Regions from separate parts of the Homo sapiens genome. Here all the other regions are linked to region 4. The links come from fine-mapping of genetic effects on gene expression. A gene starts in region 4. Each other region holds a variant in brackets. All regions are shown on one strand. Distances are from middle to middle. Region 1 has its middle 44 kb from the start of NDFIP1. Region 2 overlaps NDFIP1 (Nedd4 family interacting protein 1). Region 3 has its middle 2.7 kb from the start of GNPDA1. Region 4 holds the start of NDFIP1 (Nedd4 family interacting protein 1). Region 5 overlaps LOC107986455 (a long non-coding RNA gene).

What was found. PIP is the estimated chance that this variant, and not a neighbour inherited with it, causes the effect.
Region 1: its variant is fine-mapped to the expression of NDFIP1 in whole blood (INTERVAL, PIP 0.99).
Region 2: its variant is fine-mapped to the expression of NDFIP1 in whole blood (TOPMed, PIP above 0.99).
Region 3: its variant is fine-mapped to the expression of NDFIP1 in whole blood (TOPMed, PIP above 0.99).
Region 5: its variant is fine-mapped to the expression of NDFIP1 in whole blood (TOPMed, PIP 0.98).

Annotation. Positions count from the first base shown.
Region 1 is chr5:142,061,735-142,066,838 of GRCh38, reverse strand. No RefSeq gene overlaps it. Among named protein-coding and RNA genes, the nearest start is that of NDFIP1, 44 kb to the left of the region's middle. The variant AT/T (reference allele first, on the strand shown) is at 1,983.
Region 2 is chr5:142,150,011-142,155,114 of GRCh38, reverse strand. NDFIP1 (Nedd4 family interacting protein 1) reads right to left here. Exons shown (of 8, transcript NM_030571.4): 8 at 675-3,384. It overlaps LOC107986455 (a long non-coding RNA gene), which reads left to right. Exons shown (of 3, transcript XR_001742907.3): 3 at 1-704. Among named protein-coding and RNA genes, the nearest start is that of NDFIP1, 44 kb to the right of the region's middle. The variant GGGGTGGGGGTGA/A (reference allele first, on the strand shown) is at 2,619.
Region 3 is chr5:142,013,221-142,018,316 of GRCh38, reverse strand. No RefSeq gene overlaps it. Among named protein-coding and RNA genes, the nearest start is that of GNPDA1, 2.7 kb to the right of the region's middle. RefSeq lists an enhancer at 139-198 and a cis regulatory region at 3,751-4,023. The variant T/G (reference allele first, on the strand shown) is at 2,388.
Region 4 is chr5:142,106,542-142,111,645 of GRCh38, reverse strand. NDFIP1 (Nedd4 family interacting protein 1) reads right to left here and starts at 2,867. Exons shown (of 8, transcript NM_030571.4): 1 at 2,609-2,867. The coding sequence starts at 2,671. RefSeq lists silencers at 2,438-2,507, 2,578-2,707, 2,768-3,037 and an enhancer at 2,615-3,116.
Region 5 is chr5:142,177,720-142,182,823 of GRCh38, reverse strand. The region is part of intron 1 of LOC107986455 (a long non-coding RNA gene); the gene reads left to right. Among named protein-coding and RNA genes, the nearest start is that of NDFIP1, 71 kb to the right of the region's middle. RefSeq lists a silencer at 1,054-1,254 and an enhancer at 1,481-1,999. The variant G/A (reference allele first, on the strand shown) is at 3,003.

The DNA.
Region 1 (5,104 bases), 45 kb after region 4:
AGTTGTGCCACCAACCTAGGACATCCAACAGTTAGCTTTTAACATAATTACTTTCTTCCCTGTTAGTGTGTTGTAAGAAAGCTTCCTTTCGACTTAACACTTTAGAAATGTTGCTTATAAAATGCTTCAGTTCTCAGGGATTTCATGGTGAAAATGAAAGATGCTCTTGGATAACTTGAATGTGTCATCCAGGCCAACAGAGCTGAGATGCAGTGCAATTTCTCCCCCGCCTCTGCTATCATCCCTCCCTTCACAGATGGCACCTCCACTCACCCAAGTTTCAATCAGACTCTGGGAGTCATCCTTGAGTCCCCTTTTCCTTGTCCTCCACCCTCGGTCCCTCAGCAAGTCCTGCTGGGCTTACCTGCAAATCCTCTGTCTCCATCCATACCAGCACAGGCAGCCCTTCAGCTCTCACCTGGGCCAGCGCAGTGGTTTCCTCATGGGTCCCCTGCTTCAACTCTTGCCTTCCTGCAGGAAGTCCATTGTCCCCTAGGCTAGCAGAGGGAGCATTTAAAAGCATCAGTGGGATCACTCCCCTCTTGTGCTTAAAGGCAACCAGTGCTTCCTATTGCCTTCAGAGTGAAAACCAGACTCCATGACAAGGCTCTGCTTATCCCAGCCCGCCTTTCTCCAGCCCTGGCTTCTGCTGCTGCCCCTGACCCCCTCATTTCTCTGCCCCTAATGCCATGGCCCGCCGCTCTGAGCCTTTGCACTTGCTCTTCCTTGGACCACTCCCAACACCTGTAGCTCCTTCTCAACTTCAGAAAGACCTTTCCTGACCATTCATTCTAAATCAGTCCAGCCTTAATTTCTCTGGATCATGTCGCCTGTTTATTAGCATCTGAGTCTCTCTCTCTTTCTACTTATTTGTGTGCTGTGTTCTCCCCAACTAAACTGGAGGCTCCCTGAAGGCAGGAGCCTCGTCTGTCTTTTTCACTGCTCTGGCCCAGCATTTTGTGCGGTATATACTTGCTGAATGAATGAACAAATGAATGAATGAATCAATGAGGAAAATGAAGAGGAAATCCCAGGGGAATATATGGTCTGAGGAGATACTCAAGGTAGGGGTGCCAAGGGAATTGCCACTCCATACAGAAGCCTGGTTCCTCCCTGTGAGGGAGTCTGGGTGGGAGCTGATCTGAGCCAGAGGCATTGGCCGTGGAGTCCAGGGGTCTCCTGTGTGGCTTCCTGAGATGGCAGAGGGAGTATCCCCACCCTGCCCCCATCAGAAATACCCAGACTGCTGGAGCAAAAGGGCACAGCTGCTGCCTCCAATGCCGATTTCCACACAGCCACTGCCTTCTTCCACCAACCACAGAGCCCCTGAGTTGCCATAGCAACAGAGGACTGCACCAGAGTCCAAATAGGGATGTCTGCATTTCCCGGCACTTCTGGCTGGGGAGGCAGGGGGTGGTCAGTCCACAGCTGTGCCTATGCCCTGTCTCTGACCTGTCCTGGTCTCTAAGCAAAGCACCCTCCTCTGCCTTTCCACCCTCATTTCACTTCCTCACTTGAAAATCTTAAGAAGAGGATCTGGAAAAATAACTAACAGGTACTAGGCTTAATACCTGGGTGATGAAATAATCTGAACAACAAACCCCCATGACACATGTTTACCTATGCAACAAACCAGCACATGCACCCTTGAACTTAAAAGTTAAAGAAAAAAAAAAAGGCCGGGCGTGGTGGCTTACGCCTGTAATCCCGGCACTTTGGGAGGCCGAGGCAGGTGGATCACCTGAGGTCAGGAGTTCGAGACTGGCCTGGCCAAAATAATGAAACCCCGTCTTTACTAAAAATACAAAAAATTAGCTGGGCGTGGCAGCCTGCACCTGTAATCCCAGCTACCTGGGAGGCTGAGGCAGGAGAATTGCTTGAACCCAGGAAGTGGAGGTTGCAGTGAGTCAAGATCGCGCCACTGCACTCCAGCTTGAGGGACAGAGAGAGACTCTGTCTCAAAAAAAAAAAAAAAAAAAAAA[AT/T]TAAAAAAAAAAGTCTCAGGAAGCACTCATGTCAGGATCTTCTCTGCTTTCTCTCCGCACTGTGGAAGGAGAGGGGAGGGATGGCCTTGTCTTTGTGTCCTGTCCAGGCCCACAAATTGGACAAAAGAACAAAGGAGCAGGATTCTCTGATATCTCACAGCTCTCAAGCCTGCCTAAAGAATGTTTTCTTTTTAAATACCACTTGGTTAGTCTAGCTGGTCACCTCCTGGAGTTTTTTAGTTTCTATCAACTGCCTTTTTGGTACCCCTAAAGAAACTCCTGAAGAAGCAAAACCTGCCTTTTACTCCCCAGAAGCTAAGAGCCTTTTGGAGGAGCTGCTGTTGTTGTCTGTCAGAATAACAACAACAGCATCTACCACTCACTAAGTGAATGTGTGACATGCATCACTTCTCTCCATCCTTACAACCGCCCTGCGAAAAAGGTGTTAGTAGTCCCATTTTGTATGTAAGGAAACTGAGGTCACATAGCTGCTAAGAGGCCACGCTGCAATCTGAGCCCTGGACTCTCAGACTCTGAATCCCAGGCCATTGGCCGCTGCTTTATGTTGGGAGGCACAGCCAGCTCCATGGAATGACATATTTAGCTTCCCCAGCCCCAGCCAGTCCCCTGGGTCCTCACGTGGCTCCCTCCCAGCCATGGTGGCTAGCAGTTGTTGGCTCTGTCCCCATGCCACGTCACCCCCACAGGGATCTGATGGCAACTCGCTCAAAGTGGGAACAAAGGCAGCATTTTTAGCCCCTTCTTTAGAAACCTTGACTCCTTGCCACATACGCGGCCACTCGGATTGGCTGTTACCATGGTAACTGGCTGCCGCTCTCTGTCCAATTATGTCAGCCCTGAACTGCAGGGCTTCCGTGCCCATTTCCTGCCCGATCTCCCCAGCCTGCCAGCCCAGCCCCTCTGACCTCCAGGCAGCTTTGAATGCCTATGCTTTCTAATTACAGCTGCCTTTCAATGCCCCTGTCCTTTCTGAACCCTTTGTAATCTGCATGGAACTTCTCCCAACAGCCCATTGTCACACTCAGCTCCCTGGCCCTTTATCTGTGGTTTCTATAGCATTGATTGTGTATCTGGCCTTGTACCCAGCATACACACACGCCCCAAAGGGCACACAGCTTGGGCACAGAAATTTCAAACATCCCAGGCTCAGTGCCTGGCACTGAGATGTTTCTCCTGCAATTGTGACCTCGTTGGGGGTCTCAGTGGTCTGATTTCAAGCCATCTTCTTTGTACATTCATTTGTTCATTCAATGACTCATGAGCACCTATGATGTGCCAGGCACTAGGGATACCAAGTTAAACAAGACAAAATGGAACTTTACATTTTTGGGGGGTGCAGGGGTGATCAATGTAAACACGTAAGCAATTAAGTAAATACATGTAATTTTGGATCATGTTAAGCACGGTGAAGAGAAAGAAATGAGGGACCCCAATTCTGGGATGGACACTTGCTTCTGTCCTCACTCAAGCTCCCCACTTCCAGCCAGAGGGGTTCACCAGATGAAGGGGGTGAGGAGGAGGTGCTTGGTGTCCATTGGGCACTTTGGATGCAAGTGGCAGAGACCAAAGTTCAGCAGCTTAGGGAAAAGGGTGCTCTGGGCAGAGCTGCAGCTGGAGCTCTGAGGCCTGAAAGTCACCAAGACTCAGTTATCGTCTCTTCTCTCTGCATCCCTCTCAGACGTCAGCTTCCTTTCCTCTCCTTGCAGCAGCTTTTCTTTTCTTTTAATTTTTAAATTTTATTACTATTATTACTATTTTTGACACAGAGTCTTACTCTGTCACCCAGGCTGGAGTGCAACGGCATGATTTCGGGTCACTGCAACCTCCACCTCCCGGGTTCAAGCGATTCTCCTGCCTCAGCCTCCCAAAGTAGCTGGGACTATAGGCGCCCGCTGCCACACCTGGCTAATTTTTATATTTTTGGTAGAGACAGGGTTTCACCATGTTGGCTGAGTTGGTCTCGAACTCCTGACCTCAGGTGATCCACCCACCTCGGCCTCCCAAAGTGCTGAGATTACAGGCTTGAGCCACCATGCCCGGCTAGCTTTTCCCACATGACAGAAAGCATGGCTGTGGACAGATCCTATGAATTTTACCTTTCACTGCCTCAGTCATGGGAGACAGCCTGACCTCAAGCATTCTTGAAGTCTAAGAGACAGAAACCAAGGGAAGAGGCTTAATGGCCCAGGTCAGAGGTTCCCATACCTGGACTAATCAACTAAGCCCAAGGATGGGATCAGAGTACAGACAAGGAGGCTCCCTGGTTTCTGGCTAGCCCTCTGTGGTTGCAGAAGGCAGACAATCCCAGCATCTAGAACACCCTTGCAAAGTGAAACTCCCCTAGGTATGTGCCCTTCACTCCCTCACCTCATCCCACCCAGCCCTACCCCTGCTTTCTTACTTTCACAGTCTCACTTCTGCTCCTGAGAGGCAATCTTATGGCCTATGCTCCAGCTCAGTCCCAACTCTTTAAAATAAATAAATAAATAAATATATAATTTTTAAAAATTTATATTATTGACTAGAGTCACCCTGTTGTGCTATCAAATAGTATGTCTTATTCATTCTTTCTATTTTTGTACCCATTACCCAACCCCCGCCTTCCCCCTACTACCTACTATGTCCATGAGTTTGTTTTGATTTTTAGATCCCAAAAATAAGTGAGAACATGCAAAAAATTAAAATTAAAAATTAAAACAAAATTTTTGTGGGGATAGAGTCTTGCTCTGTTGCCCAGACTGGAGTGCAGTGGCGGGATCATAGCTCACTGCAGCCTTGAACTCCTAGGCTCAAGTGATCCTCCCACCTCAGTCTCCGGAGTAGCTGTGACTACAGGCATGCACCACCATGCCTGGCTTTTTTTTTTTTTTTTTTTTTTTTTTTGTAGAAACAGGGTCACATCACCTTGTCCAGCCTGGTCTTGAACTCCTGGGCTCAAGCCATCCTCCCACCATAGCCTCCCAAAGTGTCGGAATTACAGGTGTGAGCCACTGCACCCAGCCTCAGTCCCGACTCTTAAGGTCAGTCTTTGAGGTTGACCTCAAGTGAGTCCCACTCACTTCATGCATGACCCCAAGTCACCACCAACACCAGGCTACTG
Region 2 (5,104 bases), 43 kb before region 4:
GCCAGGGGTCTAGTTTTGTTAGGGTCTAGATTCTCACCCCAGAATCTTACCCCCTCAGGCAATCACTCAAATTGAAATATCACTTCTATTGGTCCTGATACTCTACTTCAGTAGTTATCTTACTTCTTCCTTTGAATGTAAACCATTTATAGCTAAGTAGAGTATATTTTAGTATAAGAACACAGTGAAGGCTGGGTGCGGTGGCTCACACCTGTAATCCCAGCACTTTGGGAGGCCGAGGCGGGCGGATCACGAGGTCAAGAGCTCGAGACCAGCCTGACCAACATAGTGAAACCCCGTCTCTACTAAAAATATAAAAATTAGCTGGGCGTAGTGGCGCGCGCCTGTAATCCCAGCTACTTGGGAGGCTGGGGCAGGAGAATCGCTTGAACCTGGGAGGCGGAGGTTGCAGTGAGTGGAGATCGCAACACTGCATTCCAGCCTGGGCGACAGGGCGAGACTCCGTCTCAAAAAACAAACAAACAAAAAACACATAGTGAAGACCAAACAAAATTTCATCTGTACTAATAATGACTCACGGTGGGCCAGAGCTCAAGTCAGTATGTAATAAGAAAGCAAAGGGAAAAAAAAAATCATTTACTTCACTAAAACTTCTGTTGTTTCTTTAAAACTCTAAACAAAATTGACCCTATAAGTAAAGATATTCATTCTTATCATTTTTTAACAAGCAAATTTTAATAATGCCTTTTATTTCTATACAAAGCAATGTAACTTTCTGAAAAAAAAAATGGCTATACAGAACCCTTTAAACATAAGAGTACAGAGTTTCAAATGGCAACAAGAAGTTAAGAAACATAGGGCACTGTGTCGTTATGGGTGAATCCTAGTCGTCCTGCAGCCCAAGGTCCAAGCTAGTTTACTCCATAACCTTAAGTAAATAACCGCGGTTCCTATGAATACCTTTCCAAAACCATTTATTATAAAAACTCACTCTTTATCCATTATCAGTATTAACGTATCAAAGTGAGAAAGAACATGGGAGAGAAAAATGACAATTAATGCAGCGTGAACATTTTCATCCTGAATACCAGTAAGGACTCTAGATGATATATGGTGCCCACTTCATGTGCCTCAAAAGATTTTAATTTTCAGAACATTTAAACGATTAAAGAGAAATCATCCTCTTAACTAGGTATTTTAAAGCGTATCAAACTGTAGGTTTACATTTGACAAAGTCTTATGGACCACCAAATACGTAGAAATAGGAATTCCAAATATTTCAGTTCGTTGAATATACAAAACCAAATAAGGCGCAAGGACCTGAAGAATAAACACAAAGCTAGTCTACAATGTTTGAGTTAACGTGATTTAGGACCCTTCTATTTTGTTCTGCAAGATAATTTACATAGTTCTCTCTGCTATATGTGTCCACATCTATTCAGATTGTTACAGATCTTTTCATTCTGGAACTTAGAACATTATAGGCCATACAAACTTCCAAACTCCATTGTTGCTATAATCTGATTCGAAATGGAAAAAAAAAAATCTTCAAAGAAACTTCCATAAAACTCCCTTCTCTATTATCAAATATAACTTCTGAAAAAGAACACACTACACTATTATTCATAATAATCCATAAACTGGTTAGAGGGATCATTGAAATGTCAATCCAGGAGGCTCCTAATTTTCCTGTTTGGCTTTCAAACAACCCACACTTCTGTGCATTATATACTGATATCCTGAACGACTTCCTATGCTGATTCTGGATATACATACACAGCAGATGAATGGACATTTGCAGCTATCAGACTGTGCTGGTGCTGATTTGTGTAGTAATTTGACCATCTTGGTGTATTTTTTCTTCATATTTCTTAAATAGAAAATGAAAAAAATCAAATGGCTGATATCATAAAAACAACTGGTCTCTAAATTTAAGATTGAGACAAGAATAGAAATCAGGAGAAATGAGGAATCTTTAATTTCAACTGACTGAATGCTCACAGGACTCAAACCAGTTGGTGCATTCAACTGAGAAAAAGAACAAATGAGAACATGCAGAAAACACTGGAAATAAATTATCTAAAATTATGTCTAAAAATTGAAGCATAATTAGGAATTCCAGAATGATTTAAGATCTCTACAACTCCTCTCTACTTTTTTAGTCCATTATCTTTTACAGAACCAATGTTCAAATACATTTTTAGGAATGTATTTAGTAGGATATAAGAGGACTTCTTGTGCTGAAAATGAAGAAAAAAATTGACCCAACATTAGTTTTTTAATCGCATCTACTGAATGATTCCCTAAGATTAGAAAAAATTGCCTTAGCAATCAACAAATGCAAGCCAAGAAATTAAGCACTAATCTACAGTAAAAGGTGCTACACAAGAGATATTTATTAATGTTCTGTTGTATTTACAGTTTTAACATAGCAAACCAAGATGAATTACCACTTGGGCAGAAAGCACATCATTCTACATTATAACCCACTGGTTTCTGCTAACACATTGTAAAAGCAAGTAGTACAGTATGTTAGGGATCATCTCAAAAGTTCCAAGCTACTTCTTTCTTTGCTCCTAAGTACCTAATCCTCTCCTTACTCCCAGACTTTGGCCTAATCACCAGGAGACAAAAGGAAAATAAGGGGGGTGGGGGTG[GGGGTGGGGGTGA/A]AGAACGCTAATTATAGAAAGAGTGTCAAGAATTACATTTTAGTAATTAAGCTTCATTTGTATCCTAGTGCTTTCTGTTTTATACAGTGACAACACCTTTAGAATCCCTTAGGTACAATAAGGTACCGCAGAATTGTGAATACAGGCTATAAAAAATTAATGCTTATTATTTACCAATTAAAGACTTATTTTTGACCACACCTTAAATGTATTTTTGCACTATGATTTTGCTTCCAGGTGTTCATACAGAATTGAATAAATTTCTAGATTAACTTGAACAGCAAATATGGATTATGTGCAAAAACACAGTCATAGCAAAAGTTTAACTTTTGAGAAAACCCCTTTAAAATGGCCAGCATTATACATATCTTACAATATTTAATTCCAAGTTCATTTTGAGATGGAGGATGAATAAAGCAAGACTGCCCCCTACCGACTACAGGGACATGGCTCATGCTACTTAAAATGACTACAAACAATATATAAGGCATTATTAATACATCACAGACTTGATTGCAAGAGCTTTTTCAAACATTAACCACTAATGATTCAATGATTACAGAATTCTGCATTAACTATTAAAATTTTACACCTAGGAACAAATAGAGAGAAATGATCTTTTCAACAGTACTTTATTTTTTTAAAGCAGGTGATTATTCCTCTGTGTTCTGCATCTTGATTCACTTCCTGCAGGTGTTCTCTTGCTTCTTGAGAGAGAATTCATAAATGCAGGAAGGCCTTTGCCAGAAAACATCTGCCAGAGAAGGATATTGAATATTGAAACTCTAGTTAGCTTGTTATTTTGGCTAAGAGAAGGATGTAGTCACAAAAGAAGGCAGGATGTTTGGAGACACAAGTGCATTTTAACATAGTTTTAAGATTACTGTATACTGACATCACGGTATTCAATAAACATTAAAATTTCAGTTCTTAAAGTTATCAAGGCCTCTAGAACTAGAAAAAACTGGAATGCTTTTTCTAAAAACTCCTGAAGTCAGGAGTCTCTCTTTCCAAACCTCTTAACAAAAGAATACAATGGAAGCAGTGCTACTGCGCATCCCACACTGAACGCTGTCAGCAATGACTGAAACTTGGGACAGAGAGCATAATCCAAGTGCACAAGTAATTTTCCTAATATACCTGAAGATACTGTTTACCCTAACAATTCCACTAGATATTGCACAAGGAAGCTTTCCAGTAAGGATGCCAACCATGTCATGCTATACCTCAACCGAGCATGGCAAAATTAGAAAACAAGGATAAACTCACAGGTACCACAAATACTTTTAAAAAACAAGTTTTCCTAAAAAGTCATTGTATTTGGGGCATGTTTCTCTTAAAATAATACATGTACTTTCAAACTAAATTTTAAGAAAGGAATATATCTGACTGAAATAAATGCTCTCGAAATAATGCCTACGCATTTTACTAAATGCAGTTTTCATCTAATACTTTGAGGCATTTCTGTACTAGTATATTGTTTTGGTTCTCATGAAAATAACTTGGGAAAAACTACAAGTAATTCCCTATATTAACAATAAAAGAAGAACTATTAAGAATAAAAGAAGAAACACTAAAGAGATACATTTACTGCTTAATAAACATTTATTGAGAAACTATTTTGTGGTACTCAGCAAGAAGTGAGAGTTGGATGGGCTCAAATATCGGCCTATAACTTACTTTTCTATCCTCCAAATTACTATAAAAGCCACAAGAAACTCTTCTATGTCTTTTCTTTCTTTTCTTTTCTTTTTTTTTTTTTTGGAGACAAGAGTCTGTCACTCAGGCTGGAGTGCAGTGGCGCGAGCTCGGCTCACTGCAACCTACACCTCCAGGGCTCAAGCCAACCTTCTGCCTCAGCCCCGCAAGTGACTGGCACTAACAGGCGTGCACCACTATGCCCGGTGTCTTCTGTATCTTTTCTGATTAGATTACTGCGTAAGTATTTAAAAGGCTGCCAAAATGGAGAGAGACTACAAACACACTGGAGGAAATGAACATATTTTAATATTATCAACATTTTTCCAAACTATAAATTCATTTGTGTTGTGATTTGAAGTAAACCACTGAAACTGATACAAGGACATCTTTTCTTTAGATTGAGAGACATAAGAGATTGAAAGACCTCGGAAAGCACAGAGACAGAGACACAAAAATATGAGGAACTCTAAAAGCCAAGCAGAAGCAAAAAAGAAAATTGGCAGATGAATATTAAATGAATGTTTTTGCAATGAGGCCAGACTCATTATAAACATAAATAATTTGTTTTATCAGTTTCTATATATTTTTTTTTTTTTTTTTTTTGAGACGGAGTCCCGCTCTATCACCCAGGCTGGAGTGCAGTGGCACAATTTCGGCTCACTGCAAGCTCCGCCCCCCGGGTTCATGCTGTTCTCCTGCCTCAGCCTCCCGAGTAGCTGGGACTACAGGCGCCCGCCACCACACCCAGCTGATTTTTTGTATTTTTAGTAGAG
Region 3 (5,096 bases), 93 kb after region 4:
TCTCACAGCTTCTGTGGGTCAAGAAATCAAGAATGACTTAGTTGAGTGGTTGTGGTTGTGGTTGTGGTTAAGGGTCTCTCATGAGATTTCAGTGAGGCTACTGGCCAGGGTTGCAGTCATTTGCAGTCTTGACTGGGACTGGAGGATCTGCTTCCAAGATGGCTCCCATGGCTGTTGTCTTGTTTCCTCGCCACCTGGGCTTTTCCATAAGGCTGCTCCAGTGTGGAAATGGAGCAGCTGACATCACTGAGAAGGTGATCCCAGAGAGAAAACAAAGAAGAAGCTGCAATGGCTTTTATGACCTAACCCTAGAAGACACACCCATCATTTCTGCACTATCCTGTTGGGTTACACAGGTCACCCCATCCACTGTGGAATGGGACTACATAAGCGTGTGAATCACTAGGAGCCGTCTTGGAGGCTGGCTGTCACACCGAGTTACTAAAATTCATAAAAATGTAATTCCTAGAGCCTGGAGGTCCACAAGGGTATGGACTTTGCTTTGTTCATTGTTGTGTCCCCAGAACCTAAAATAGTGCTGGGCACATGGTAAAGGCTCAATAAATATTTTATAAATGAATGAAAAAGAAGACTGCAGGGCAGGTGGCAATTTACTTGGCTTGGATGGAAGCATAAGATTCATTAAGTTTTCAAGGTTTTGTTGTTGTTTTTCCTTCAAGACAAAATCATTCATTTCATACAAATATTAGGCAGAATGTATCCAACCCGCAGCACCCACTTTGAAAAAATATGATGAGTCAATGAGACGATGCTTTAAAAACTTTTAGCACAGTGACCAGCACAGAGTAGATGGTCAATTACTTTGATCAAATCTTTTTATTAAATTTTTTTTTTTTTTTTTTTTTTTTTTGCCAAATGGGGCAGGGGGTTTTGTTTGAGACAGAGTCTTGCTCTGTCACCCAGGCTGCAGTGCAGTGGTGCGATCTCAGCTTACTGCAACCTTCACCTCCCAGGTTCAAGCGATTCTCACGCGTCAGCCTCCTGAGTAGCTAGGATTACAGGCACGTGCCACCACACCCGGGTAATTTTTGTATTTTTAGTGGAGACAGGGTTTTACCATGTTGGCCAGGCTGGTCTTAAACTCCTGGGTTCAAGTGATCTGCCCGCCTCTGCCTCCCAAAGTGTTGGGATTACAGGTGTGACCCACCACTCCTGGCCAGATCACATCTTAATAACAAGTTAGTGTGTGTCTGTGGCAGATTGTATTTTTTAAACATGGCCATACTTGTACATGTATCCCGTCCAACATGCTCTTCTTATAATATTACTGAACTTCTTACACAGAGAGATGGGGGTCTATGTTTTCTCTTTTTAAATCTGGATAGGGGCTTGTGATTTCTCCAACCCACAGAGCTCAGCAGAAGTGATGCTATATGACTTCTGAGACTAGGTCAGAAGAAGGATACAGCCTTAGCCCATCTTTGTCTCTTGATACGCTTGCCCTTGGAACCCACCGCTATGTTGTGAGGAAGCCCAGGCAACAAGGAGAGCCATGTGTGAGTGTTCCACTGACAGTGAGCACCTGTTGTCAAGACATGTGAGTCAATGAGCTTTCATACGATTCCAGCCCCAGAATTTGAGTCTTTCAGTTGAGGGGCAAGATATCATCGCCACTGTATCCTGTCTGAATTTCTAGCCCACAGAAACTGTGAGAAATAAGTCATTATTGTTGTTTTAAGCCACTAAGTTTTGGGGTAATCTGTTACACAGCAATAGATAACTAATAAAATATCCTTCCAGAATTTCCTCTAACTAGCTTCAGGGGAAAATGATATTTAATTATGTATTCACTCATTCACTCACTCAACCACGAAACCCAAAAGGGTATATTTGGCTTCAGACATGCTATTCTAGGGGGCTCAAATGATGTCATCAGAGTTCTGTGTCTCTCTTCTATTTGTTGTACCTTTCTGTAGCTCTAAGCTTTCCTCTGTTTTACGGCTCAAGATCTCAGGAGAAGTGTATTTTCCCCCAGTAGTGGCATAAACCCTAAGGAAGATCTGAATCACCTGCTCTAGCAGTGAGTCATGTTTTCAATTTCAAGTCACAGGAAATTCTCCTAACAATGATTTAAAGTTTAAGCCATAAGGACATTTACCATTTACTTAGAAGAAGTCCAGAAGTAGGAGGTCCCAGCACTAGTCAGATATCAAGGACATAAGTGTTTTCCCTCCTCCACTCTATCCTTATGCTTGGTGCCTCACAGTTACAACGTGGCCTCCCCAGCTTCAGTCATCACAACTGCCTTCAAGGCAGGAAGGAAAGGGAAGGAACCAGAAACCGCCAGTTTGTTTCTCAAGCACAGCACTTTTCTCAGGAAGTAAAATATCTAACCAGAAGCCATCCTCCTCCCTCATTGGGCAGAA[T/G]GAAGTTACTTGGCCACCCCGTAGCTGTGGGAGAAGCTGTGAGAGTCGTTGACTTTCCAGTTTCTCCAGTGGGAAGCAGCAAGGGAGAAGGAGTCTCTGAATGGCTGCTGGGTTAGTGTCTTCCATGCCTGCCTGGCCTTGAACTAATCATGGCCAGAGCCATGGAGTCTCTAATTGGTTTGCTCCTAAGTCAAAGGGTAGGGCCAGCACCACACAAACTCTATGAATTGAGCAGAATTTGGGAGGTAACATCTGGTCAGGTTGTTTGCCCAAAGCAAGGGTGCATTAGAAGGTATAAAAATATCTGACCATACAAGAGTTGCAGAGTGTTCCATTGCATGGATAAACTCACAATTCTTTTAATTTGGCAACTTTAGTTCCAAGACAAGAGGATGGGAGGATAGGTGTGGGTAATAGTTTAAACACAGATGTGGAGTAGGAGGAGTACAGGGAGTCAGGAGGTTAGGGCTAGAGAGCATTTCAGTATGGTTAGAGAGTGGGCTGTAAGGAGGGTTAGGAGGAAATAAGGGGTAAGTAATAACAGCTGGCTGTGAATGCCATGCTATGCTAATATTTCATTTAATAGTCACAACAGCCACACGAGGGCAGTATTACTTAATTTCCACTCAATTCTTATGTTTCAGGTAAGAAAACTGAGACCTGGAGAAGTTGAGTCATTTGCTTGAATTACTCACTAAATAACCAGAAATTAGCCAGACCAGAATTGAAATGCAGGTCTTTCCGATTAGTCCCCACGCTGATCCAAGAGCCTCCAGGCTTCGCAGAGACCCTGCACTGGTTCCCTGCAGAAGGGGTAACTCAGGGGAAATGGGCTTAGTCACCAGAAGTCAGTCACTCTCCTCCTGGAAAGGTCTGGATGCAGATGCTGCAGACCTGGCCCATGTTATCAGACGTGATCGGAGATTGGAGTTGGAGCTTCATTGTGAAACATCTGCAGTCCTCAAGCTGAGACAACATTTCTGGCTGGGGGCGGTGGCTCATGCCTGTAATCCCAGCACTTTAGGAGGCCAAGGCGGGCAGATCACCTGAGGTCAGGAGTTCACGACTAGCCTGGCCAGCATGGTGAAACCCCATCTCTATTAAAAGTACAAAAATTAGCTGGGCATGGTGGTGGGCATCTGTAATCCCAGCTACCCGGGAGGCTGAGGCAGGAGAACTGCTTGAACCCGGGAGGCGGAGGTTGCAGTGAGCAGAGATCACACCACTGTACTCCAGCCTGGGCAACAGAGCGAGACTCCATCTCAAAAAAAAAAAAAAAAAGATTTCTGACTGAATTTAAAAATAAACAAAAACTACACCAACACCGAGCCATTCACAGCCTCTCAGGATTTGGAAAACAAAACAAAACAAAACAAAATAACACTGAGGCAAAGAGCAAGTCCCCCACACTGTAAAGGTATCAGCTCCACCATCTGGTCTCATCAGGGCCTCACCAGATGAAGCCTACCCCTAGCAAGCTGGTCTGGAGCTGCAGTTGGGCCCAAGGGCTGGGTGAGCGCCTGGGGCTGTCCACAGTGAGCAGATTCAGCAGAATTGCAGAACGTGGCCACCCGGCTGACTGAGGAAGGCCCTGTCCCGTGGGCATAAAGCCAGGATTCCTTTGGCCTTTTGCTGCTGGAGGAAAACTAGGCTGATTCAGAAGGTCTCACCACTGCTCCCTAGCACTGACTAAAGTCCGGGATGTCAGACTATGAGGTCATATATCACAAGTCTCTGTACGCCTTTGATCCCCAGTTTCCACATCAATAAAATGGCGGTAATCATATCTGACGATTGGGCGGGATTCTATGAAATAATGCGCACAAAGCTCTGGCAAAACCCTATGTAATGGAAGATGTTACTGATGACCAGCACTCAAGTCCTTCCTCCAGCCTCCGCATGGAAAGTTCCCAAGTGTCCCTAGAAGTCTGGAACACTCTAATGTTGACTGGAAAGAATAAGATGGATCTCTTTTTCTGATATGGAAGCGTCCCAAATCCAGTCATACCAGCTGGGAGGCAGTGCCCGCTAGCGGTAAAAAGCATGGATTTTGGATTTGGACAGATCCCCCTGAATTGAAGGCACAAGGGAAACCACTTGTGCCTCTGGCCAAGTTAATTTTTCTCTCCAAGCGTCAGTTTCTCCACCTGTTAAAAAGTAACGGCAAACCTACCTCACTGGAGCTTAATAAGGATTAAGTGAAATAATGCAGGTCAAATATCCGAGCCTTGATATATATAAGCCTCATGTGTATGTGTTCCCATTTATGTAAAATAACAGTGTAAGCATATTCAAAGAAAGCAATTCAGAATGTACTCTTAAACTAAGCAATGGTTATCTTGGTGTGGGGAGTTGGGGAAACCAGGGGCCTGCCTTTTTCTCTATTATATAATGCTGCAAAGTTTGATCTTTAAAAAAGGACATTAAAAAGCCCAATTGTACTTTAAACAACACAAGTTTTAATACTTGGGTAAATAAATGGCATCTAAACAAAGAAAGAAACTGAAGGCAGAGCCAGGCCCAACCCTAGGAGACTGAGGAAGCGATTCTGCTTTGCCTGCCCCCAGCTCAACCCCTGCACTAAAACCCCCCGGCCCCAGCCCCAAGGTCCAGGGGGTTGTATTCCTGGGGGCGACCCGGCGCCCCTCAAGTCTCCCTCCTCTTGCACACACACACACACAAACCAGACTCGAATCCCCGCCTCCCAAG
Region 4 (5,104 bases):
GGTGAGAAAACTAGCTCAATTTGATTAACCAGATCAAATAGAAGTCAGAACAGCCCTGTGTGACAACCAAAGAGTATCATGCTCCTATCAAGTTGCCTGGACAATTCACCATCATTCTATAATTCAAAAGCCTTTTAAAAATGCATATTCGCTGACCAGGCATTTCCATGGCTAGTAATTTATGCTAAGGAAACGGTTGAAGACGTATGTGAAATAAATTTCAATGAAAAAAACTGTAAACATTCTTAGTGACCAAAGATAAGCAATTAGTTAAATTATGATTCAGCCATACAATTACATGCCATGCAGACATTAAAAATATTTTATATAGAAGACATTAATAACATTGTGTGAAGAACATTACAAAATAGAATTATGAACCTATTTCATTATTTATCTAGCATGCCTTTGTAGATACATGTGCATGATACACATGTGCAAATGTATGAATGCACATGTCTGAGAACAAGATACACATGGACACGTGCAAAAGTATGTGCAAGTATGATCGGGGCTCATAAAACTGCACACAAATGTACAAAGATATGTCTGTATACGTATATATGGGTACATAAGAGAATACATATGCATGTGTATATATCTGCTAATGCATACACCTATATCTGGACTGTGAGCCTGTGTTTTAAGTAGGTGAGTGTGTGTATATCCTTATAATCACTACTTAGCAGCCTGTGACCTTGAGGCAAGTTACTGAGCCACTTTGAGTCTTTGACAATGAGAACAAACCCTGGTTCATAAGGGTTTGGTATGAATTAAAAGAAAAAAAAAATGGATGTAAATTACTTAATACTGTGATTGTTGCATAAAAAAATCAATATTAGCTTTCCTGCATTCCTTATCTGTACACACATATACTGATCTATAACTATGTATATTTACATAGCTATAAACCCACAAGAATGCACATTAAAATATTACCTTTGGTTATCTATTTGGTTTTTGTTTAGGGAGGGTTTTGCAGTTTTTTGGGCTTTCATCTTTTACAATTTTTCTAGGAAGATTTTTTTCTCTTTTTTTTATACTTCAATTCTGCATAATTAAAAAATATTAAATGCCACACTAAGGAATACATGATTTTGATACTCCAGCAAATTTTTTATATTCTAGCAGTATGTCAGCATTACCTAATAGCTCAAGAAGATGGCAGTACAAAGAAAAACCACAGCTCTTTTGCTCGTTAGCCTTATCCAAGTCAGGATGAAAAGGATGAAATCAGATGACAGTATACAGTAGGGGTGATTTGCAAACACTGTGGTGACAGTTAAGTGGCATCTGTTATTCCCATTTTATTAAAGCAGTAAGGAACCCGCAGGCTGCCCAAGGTCATAGAAAAAAAGCATGTGCTAGATCCATGTGCTCTGAAGAGATCTAAGGATTAACTGCATTGCCACAATTTGGGCCGTGTTTATAAAACCAAGAAGTGAAATTCTTAACTAGTCATTTTGGGAGTCCAAGCCTGAGTGGGGACGGATTGCAACACATGGCTGATGATAGCAAAACAAACCAGTAACCGGCCGGCCGCACCAGGGTTAATCTACGTTTTCATCGTACTGGCTGGCTTTCCTTACTTCTAAAATATAAAATTGTAGATCGTCTAAGATAGGACATTTTATTTGATAAAAGGAGGATTGACATCTGTATGCACCGAAAGCATCTGAAACATGACAAACACAAGCCGTTATTTGCGGTTCCAATCAACATCAGTTTACCACCTGGCTCAATTCCCACCATTACTGTATGTTAGATTAACACTTCCAAAAACCCTGCAGAAGGTCTCTAAATTTCCTGGGGGAACTTAGCTACAGACGCGGAGTGAAACAAGCAGCTCTTTTCCCTGGGGCCTCAATGTATTAAATCAAACCCGAGAAAATGATCCAATCATTTCCTATACATTTCCTCCCCAGCTATGCCATCAAATCTCTTAAAACGTCACTTCCAAGCATTTAAAATACACCCGGCACACGCCCTGCAGACTTCATCGTAGCTCTCCCTTTTGGGGCATCACCACAGCCAAACATCGCCTCTTCCAAATCTACTGCAAACTGCGGGCTTGTCTCTTGCTTCATTTTTTACTTTTGTCTTAAAACGGAGGCGAGGGGGATGGGTTTCGACAAACTAGGCTCTGAAACCCTGAGCAATAGCATCTTGCTGTGGGGAGCTATCGGCAGCAGCAGAGATTTTAATCTTTTCTCTCCACCCAGTTTCCGTTTCATGCTTTTTTCTTTCTTTCTTTTCCAATGACATCAAACCAAAGGTGGAAAAATGAAAAACGAATGCCTCAGATCGATGCCGCCTGTGGGTCGCGGGTTCTGACTCAGGGACCCGCCCGCCCTGGGAAATGCGGGAAACGAGGCCGGGAGGAGGACTTTCCACCGCCGGAGTCCCACCTGGGGTCGCAGACGGGCAGGCCGGGCCCGTGGCAGCCTCGAATCCGAGCCCGGGGCCCGACCCGCCCCTCCAGGCCCAGCGCGGCCTGCCAAGCCCCGGCGTCGAGTTGGCCGCGGGCCGGCCAGAGAGGCCTGAGGCGGCCAGCGGGCAGGGCAGAGCCAGGGACCGGAGTTCGGGGCTGGAGTCGGGCGCCGCTTACCTGCTGGTACCGGCTGCCGCAGGCCGGCTCGACCGCCGCCAGCGCCGCCAACGCCAACGCCATGGCGCAGCCGGCAGCAGGGAAGCAGAGCGAGCGAGCGAGCTAGCTGAAGGGGCGCGGCCGCTGCGGCTTGGGAGCGCTGGGAGGCCGAGGGGGACGCGCCTTGGGTGGGTCTCGATGGCCGCCGCCGCTCCCGGGCGAGACGCTCTTCTCAGGCTGTAAGCACCGCCGCCGCCGCCGAGGCTCCGACGCGGCCCCTGGGGAAGAGGCGGGGACTACGACGACGGCGCTGCGCCGCCGCCCCACCCCCGACTCGCGCCGCCCTGCCCGGCCCGGCCCGGCCTAGCCTAGTCCTGCGCCGCCGCCCCGAGGTGCACCGGCCCTGGTGTAGTTGCTCCGACGACCTGAGCCTCCGAGGCTCAAGTGTTGTATTCGATTCCACTAAAAACGAATTACTAACAGGCCAGCCCAAAGCAAGGGCGATGCTGCTGATGAGCACCTCGTGCCAAGCACTGAGCTTCACCTACGTGCCCTCATCCAGCCTTCAGCACAACCGCCCTGACGCAGGGACCACAACCCCATTCTCGAGGTCGTTGGCAACCAGAGAGGTTGACAATCTTCACAGCAGCGACCTGATCCCTCGTGTCTGGCAGCAGAATCGTGGTTCTTATTCACTCCCTTCTTTTATCTGCCGTACTCATAAACCAGGGGTCAGCCAGCGACAGGGAGGGGGCCAAATCCGGTCTGCCACCATGACTGTGAAAAGTACATGAAATTCAAGTTTCAGTGTCCATAAATAAAGTTTTATTGGAACACAGCAGCACCCATTTGTTTGGTATGGCCTGCAAACCCTATAATACTTGCTATCTGACATTTTACAGAAAAAGTTTGCTAACCCTAAATCCTTGAGAACTGCTTGGATCTCAAATCCTACTTAGGGTGGATGATTATAATAGCATCCTCATGTTTATGCCATCCTTTAGTATTTTAACAGCCTCATCTGCGGAATCGGAAACAATATTTTCCAAAAAAGCTCCCTGACTCGGTGACATGAAGTCAAAACTTGAAGGGTTTGGCCATGCTAAAGGCTTTCCCGACCACAGGAACAGGTGCAAAGGGCGGTCCAGAGAGAGATTGTCTTGTGGAAGAACAGAAAGGAGGCTGGCATAGCTGCCATATAGGAGATACAATTATCAGTGTTTCACAGATGAGGAAGTTATGCCCAAAGAAATTAAATATCTCACCCAATGACACAGAGCTACTAAGGGGTGAAGCTGGAATACAACTCCATTAAGCCAGCTTTCTTACCCAGTATTGCACAACTAAATTATAAGCTTTGTGAAGACAAGAGTATTTGTCTTTTAAATCTTATTACCTCCCAATGCCATGTAGCACAGTATAGCTATATAGCAGGCTTGCAAGGTCTGTTTCTTTCACACCCAGCCATCTGCAATTGCTTCTACCCACATGTCCTACAGAGAAAAACAAAATCTTCCATCTCTGAAGCTTGTTGCAATTCCCATTTCTTCTTCATTGCCTTTCCAAGTTGGCAGTGTAGAGGTTATATTAATATGATTATTGTCTTAGCTTCTAATTTTGAAGTTTAGTTAATTATGTATTTTAAAAGAGAACTGTGTTTAGAACACACCCTGAGGTTTCTGTATATATGAGAAAATTGTAATCAATAAAAACTCTAGATGTTTACCATCTTCACTTTGAGTTCTCTCTCAGCATCCAAACTCCTCTATATCTGTCGCTATTTCCAAGTATTAGTCTCACATATTAACATGCTGGGAGAGCGAACAAATGTAGCAACATTCCAAGCTCTCAAGTCTATTTAGAGCCTCCTTACTCTGTCCCTCAGTTGTTGTTTATAATCCAGAAAAACAACATTTAAATGTAATCAGGTACAGTGAATCAAACATAATGTCCTGCCATGTAGTCTTGTATAAAGGGTGCAAAAATCTAATTTGAAATTTTTTAAAATGTCAGCAGTGGAAAGTAGAAATCCAGACTTCTTTGTCCAGATTGTCTACATTTACGTGTAAGAAAGAATAAAAAAGAATGTCCACTGGGCACAGTGGCTCACATCTGTAATCTCAGCACTTTGAGAGCCTGAGACTCGAGGATCACGTGAGCCCAGGAGCCAGGAGTTCGAGACCAACCTGGGCAACATAGTGAGACACAATCTCTGAAAAAAAAAAAGAAAAAGAAAAAAGAATTTGTCGGCCTACCACATAAGGCTATTGGAGCAACAACTGCAATCTTTATGCATGTCTGCAGTGCTGTGGCTTTTGTGGAAAAGATGTTGCTACCCTTCTATTTCTTTCCTAAATTACTTTCTCCCTCAATATCTATATACTCCCTGCATGTGGACACAAATATTTATCATAATATAAATAACAGGCTTTATCATAGAAATATTTTGCATTGAAAGTAAAAGAAAATTGATCTCCAACTTCTAATCTCCTTTTCCTATGTCCTCAACCAAAATGT
Region 5 (5,104 bases), 71 kb before region 4:
CAACAATCTTATGAAGTAGGTTATATTATCCCCATTATACAGATAAATAAACTGTAGCTGAGAGAAGTGAAATGACTTGCCCAAGGCTGTGCAGCTAGTCTGTGTGCCTCCAGAGGGCTTTCTCATCACACCTCTGAGCTCTGACTCTCCAACCTGCCCCAGCTTTTCCCTGCATTCCAATCTCACCCAACAGTATCCATTCCTCCAACACCTCCAGACATCTGTTCAAGCATTTTCCTTGGTCTGGAAAGTCCTTCCTATCTTTGCCAACCATGGAAAGGCTCCCTATATTAGTCTATTTTCACACTGCTATAAAGAACTGCCCCAGACTGGGTTATTTATTTATTTATTTTTGAGATGGAGTCTCACTCTGTTGCCCAGGCTGGAGTGCAGTGGCGCAACCTTGGCTCACTGCAACCTCTGCTTCTCAGGTTCAAGCGATTATCCTGCCTCAGCCTCCTGAGTAGCTGGAATTACAGGCGGCCGCCACAACGCCCGGATAATTTTTGTATTTTTAGTAGAGATGGGGTTTCACCATGTTGGCCAGGCTGGTCTTGAACTCCTGACCCCAAGTGATCTGCTCACCTTGGCCTCCCAAAGTGCTGGGATTACAGGTGTGAGCCACTGTGCCTGGCCGGGACTGGGTAATTTATAAAGAAAAGATGTTTAATTGACTCACAGTTTTTCAGGTCTGGGGAGGCCTCAGGAAATTTAGAATCCTGGCAGAAGGAGAAGCAGTCACGTCTTACATGGAGCAGGCGAGAGAGCAAGTGTGTGAAGGAGACACTGTCAAACACTTGTAAAACCATCAGATCTCGTGAGAACTCACCCACCATCACGAGAATAGCATGAAAGAAACTGCCCCCGTGATTCAATCACCTCCTTCCCTTGTCACATGGGGATTAGAGGTCCCTCTCTCACTTAACATGTGGGATTACAATTCAAGATGAGATTTGGGTGGGGACACAGAGCCAAACCATATCACTCCCCTTATCTTTCAAGGCTTTGCCTAAAGTCTGCTCCCCTCTAAAGACTTCCCCAGCCCTCCTCACAGCCTGAGGCAGAACCGCTGCTCCCATTCTTGGCCTGTAGTTCAGAGCATCAGGGCACAAACTCACTGTGCTTGCAGGGAAGAGTCAGGATCAGTTCACCTTTGCACCTCCAGCACCTAGCACAGTCAGCTACCTGCCACTCGGCAGAAATTCAATAAATGTCTTATAATTAAGTAAAATCAAGCATATCATTCCCAGAATAACAAAATAGAGAGCAAACCTTCCAACCCCAGGACATTCTGGTCCCGTCTGCTCCCTAAGAAGTAGCTGACTGCTCTGGTTGAGAGGGGAGCAGAAAGAAGCTTAGAATTAGGCTGAGAGCCCCGCAAGCAGCCCTGGCAGGGGTCCAGCTCAGGGAGAGCCAGGTGGGGCTCCTACAGCAGCCTTTGTGATAGTGAGGAGCTAGGCAAGCTCAGCTGGGTAAAGGCCATTTGGTTCTGGGCGGTCATGGCCCTGAGCCTGCAGACAAGGCCTGCAGCACCAGCCCTGCACGCCCTGCGGTCCCTTTGGGTCACCCACACTCACTGGCCGCCTCTCTTCGTTTCTGATTCCACCTCAGAGAGTTATTGCCTTTATCACAAGGAAGCCAGGAGAACAAGTTACCTCCTGGGCTTATCTTCAAGTCCAAGGGTCTCCTTGCTGCTGGAACAGGAGGCTGTTCCCCCTGCAGTCCCAGCTTTTCCTGTTTGCTCATCTCTCATCAGAGAATTCTGAGCAGAGGAGAGAAGAAGCAGACGAAGGAGAAATTGTACCATGGAGACACCTGTGAAGGGCTGGACTGAGGGCTGGGCTGAGGCAGGCATGGGGCTCTTCCTGGACAGCAGGGTTGTGGGGTCTGCTTGTTGCCTTCCAGCCACAGAATGAATTAAAGACCCTTGGAAATCTCTTCCAGCCCCACATTCTAGAATCTTTCTGAAGATTGGTCACATGTGCCTGTGGGCAGGGTAGCCATAATTTATTGTTCTGAAATACTTTTTTTTTTTTTTTTGAGACGGAGTCTCGCTCAACTGTTGCTCAGGGTGGAGTGCAGTGATGCGATCGTAGCTCACTGCAGCCTCAACCTTGTGGGCTCAAGTGATCCTCCCACCTCAGCCTCCCAAGTAGCTGGGACTACAGGCGTGTACCACCACGGCTGGCTAGTTTTTGTATTTTTTGTAGAAACAGGGTCTTGCTACGTTGCCCAGGCTGGTCTCAAACTCCTGGGCTCAAGCGATCTACCTACCTCAGCCTCCCGAAGTGCTGGATTACAGGCATGAGCCAACATGGCCGGCCCAAAATTCTTTTAAAATAAAGAAGTCACAGGCGTAAACCAGGCCTACCCCAGGCAACACTTTTCTACCTAAGGTGTTGAGGACAGGGAATGTTTACCCAAATTTTGGTAGATCCAAGATTAAAACCTGGAATTACCATTCAAACTTTTCCAAAAGAAATGGCCACTTCTCAACGAGAGTTTGACAACCCACTTCTCTGAGTAACATAATAAGATACATGATAAATCATAATAGCATAGAGCCTTTGCCTAATGTACCCTGGTTTCTCCTGCAGCTGCTCTGCACAGAGGCACGTGCCCTGGGGCATTTTCTGGGTGAAGCAGACACTCCCAGGGGAGAGCACAGAGATAATGCTAAATGGCCTGTTGTACAGAATGATTCCTGGCAGTGCCACTCCTTGTAAGGGGGAAGGGAGAAGGGCCTTCATCTTTTCCCAGGTGTGAGAGGGGAGGGACGAGCCAGTGGCCACTGATCTCTGGGTAGAGTCCCTTTGTGTCTTGTCTTTTGGGCTGACCCCACATGCCTCTGGGAGATGGGGGCTGGAGTAAGGGGGTGGTACTTACCGAGCTTCCCCGAGACCAGAATGTGGGCACAGGGTCCCGGTTCCCCTTTCTTCCTCCCTGCTGGCTCTGCTGTGGGATTATTTTTCAGCACAGGGACAGGTTTCAGGGCAGTGCAG[G/A]ACTTAGGGGCAGCCTACTCTTACTTGGGGTGTAACTCAGTGAGCCTACACAGAAGCAGGGTTCCTCTCCTAGCTCCTCAGGTGAGGTGAACGAGTTTCTGGGATGAGGCCTTAGGAACCCCCTCTGTAACCTTGAGAAATCAGGGACAAGTGTCCGTGGGTGACCAAAACCCCTGACCTCCCAGGAAGGATGGTGTATGTGTGAAGTCAGAGATCAAAGGATCAAGTGTGGAGTCTGTTGGGAGCACTGGTTCCCTGAACTCCAGGCAGTTTTGCCAGGCCCCGTACCACAGTCCATCAAATCCAGTCAACCTTTAACTTCAATACGTAGCTTAGCTTTGTACCAAAAATAAACACTTGTGAAATAATAGATTTTGTAAATATTTTATTACATAAAGAAGATAGAAGCACTTGATAGATATGGACACGTGTATATTTTAATACATAATTATTAAACTTTAAAAAATCTTTATCCGGTCGGGCACGGTGGCTCATGCCTGTAATCCCAGCACTTTGGGAGGCCGAGGCAGGCGGATCACAAGGTCAGGAGTTCAAAACCAGCCTGGCCAATATAGTGAAACCCTGTCTCCACGAAAAATCCAAAAATTAGCGAGGTGTGGTGGTGGGCGCCTGTAGTCCCAGCTACTGTGGAGGCTGAGGCAGGAGAATCCCTTAAAACCGGGAGGTGGAGGTTGCAGTGAGCCGAGATCGCACCACTGCACTCTGGCCTGGGCGACAGAGTGAGACTCCATCTCAAAGAAAAAAAAAAATCTTTATCCATGAACCTCCCGGAACCATCTCACCATTTGGGAAACATAGGTATAGTGATCTGAACTCAGGCACCAGCAGGAGAGGGGAGGGAGAGAGCAGAGTGAGGTTGGGGAGTTGGGGAGTTACTTTCCCAGCTCCTTCCCTGCGGAGTCATCCTGGGCTGGCTGTGTCCCTCTTTCAAAGCCACAGCACCTGCCAGGGAGGCCTCCCCTTATGCCAGCCCTTATGGGGCCTGGTGCCTGCTCCCTTCCTTGCTGCTGCTTCTTTTTTTTTTTAATTGAGACAGAATCTCGCTCTGTCGCCCAGGCTGGAGGGCAGTGGCACCATCTTAACTTACTGCAACCTCCGCCTCCCAGGCTCAAGCGATCCTCTCGCCTCAGCCTCCCAAGTAGCTGGGATTATAGGTATGTGTCACCATGCCTGGCTAATTTTTGTATTTTAGTAGAGACAGGGTTTCACCATGCTGGCTAGGCTGGTCTAGAACTCCTGACCTCACATAATCCGCCCGCCTCGGCCTCCCAAAGTGCTAGGATTACAGGCGTGAGCCACTGTGCCCTGCCAAAGATTTTTTTTAACTGCTGCAATACATTTAATACCTTGCTAACACATTGTTTTGATGATTACCTAAAAATGGAAAAGTTAAAATTTCAAAAGTAACACATACCTTGTAGATAGTAACTAACTTGTCTCTCACCTTCTCTAAACTGTTTCTTTTACCGCCTGGTAACAGAGCAGCATGGTTGAATGGAGAGTGGGCTTTGATACAGACAGAACCAGTCTCCTAGACTGAAGAGCTGTGTGGCCTGGGGTAAACTGTGTAACCTATCTGAGCTTCAGTTTCCTCATCTGAAATATAGAATGATAATGTCTGTCTGTCTTCCAGAGATATTAAAGATAAGTGCATAATACGTGACCAATAAAAGATTGCTATCAGGCCAGACAATATATTGGAGCTTATTTTTACAAGTCTTTTTGGGCTGCATTGTCCTCTGCTCGGTTTCTTGTGGGCACCCGTCTCACCTCCCAAACTAGACAGTGAGCACCTTAAGGTTGCCTTCTGTCCGCTTAGCCTGAGGACGCGGCCCACAGACAATGCTCCGTGAATGTCAGGTGAGTGGTGCGTTGAAGCACCTTTGGTCCATCGTTATTATATGAAGAGGGGAAAAAATAAAGACTGGAAACATTTTTCCATTCAGGAAGAGGTTGGTGACACCAATGAGCCTTCCACAAGCAAAGTGTCAGCAGGAGAGATAATGACACTACCACCTCCAAACGCCCTTCCAGCTCATTCCAAAAATGGAAAAAACACAGGATCTGGAGATGAAGCTCGC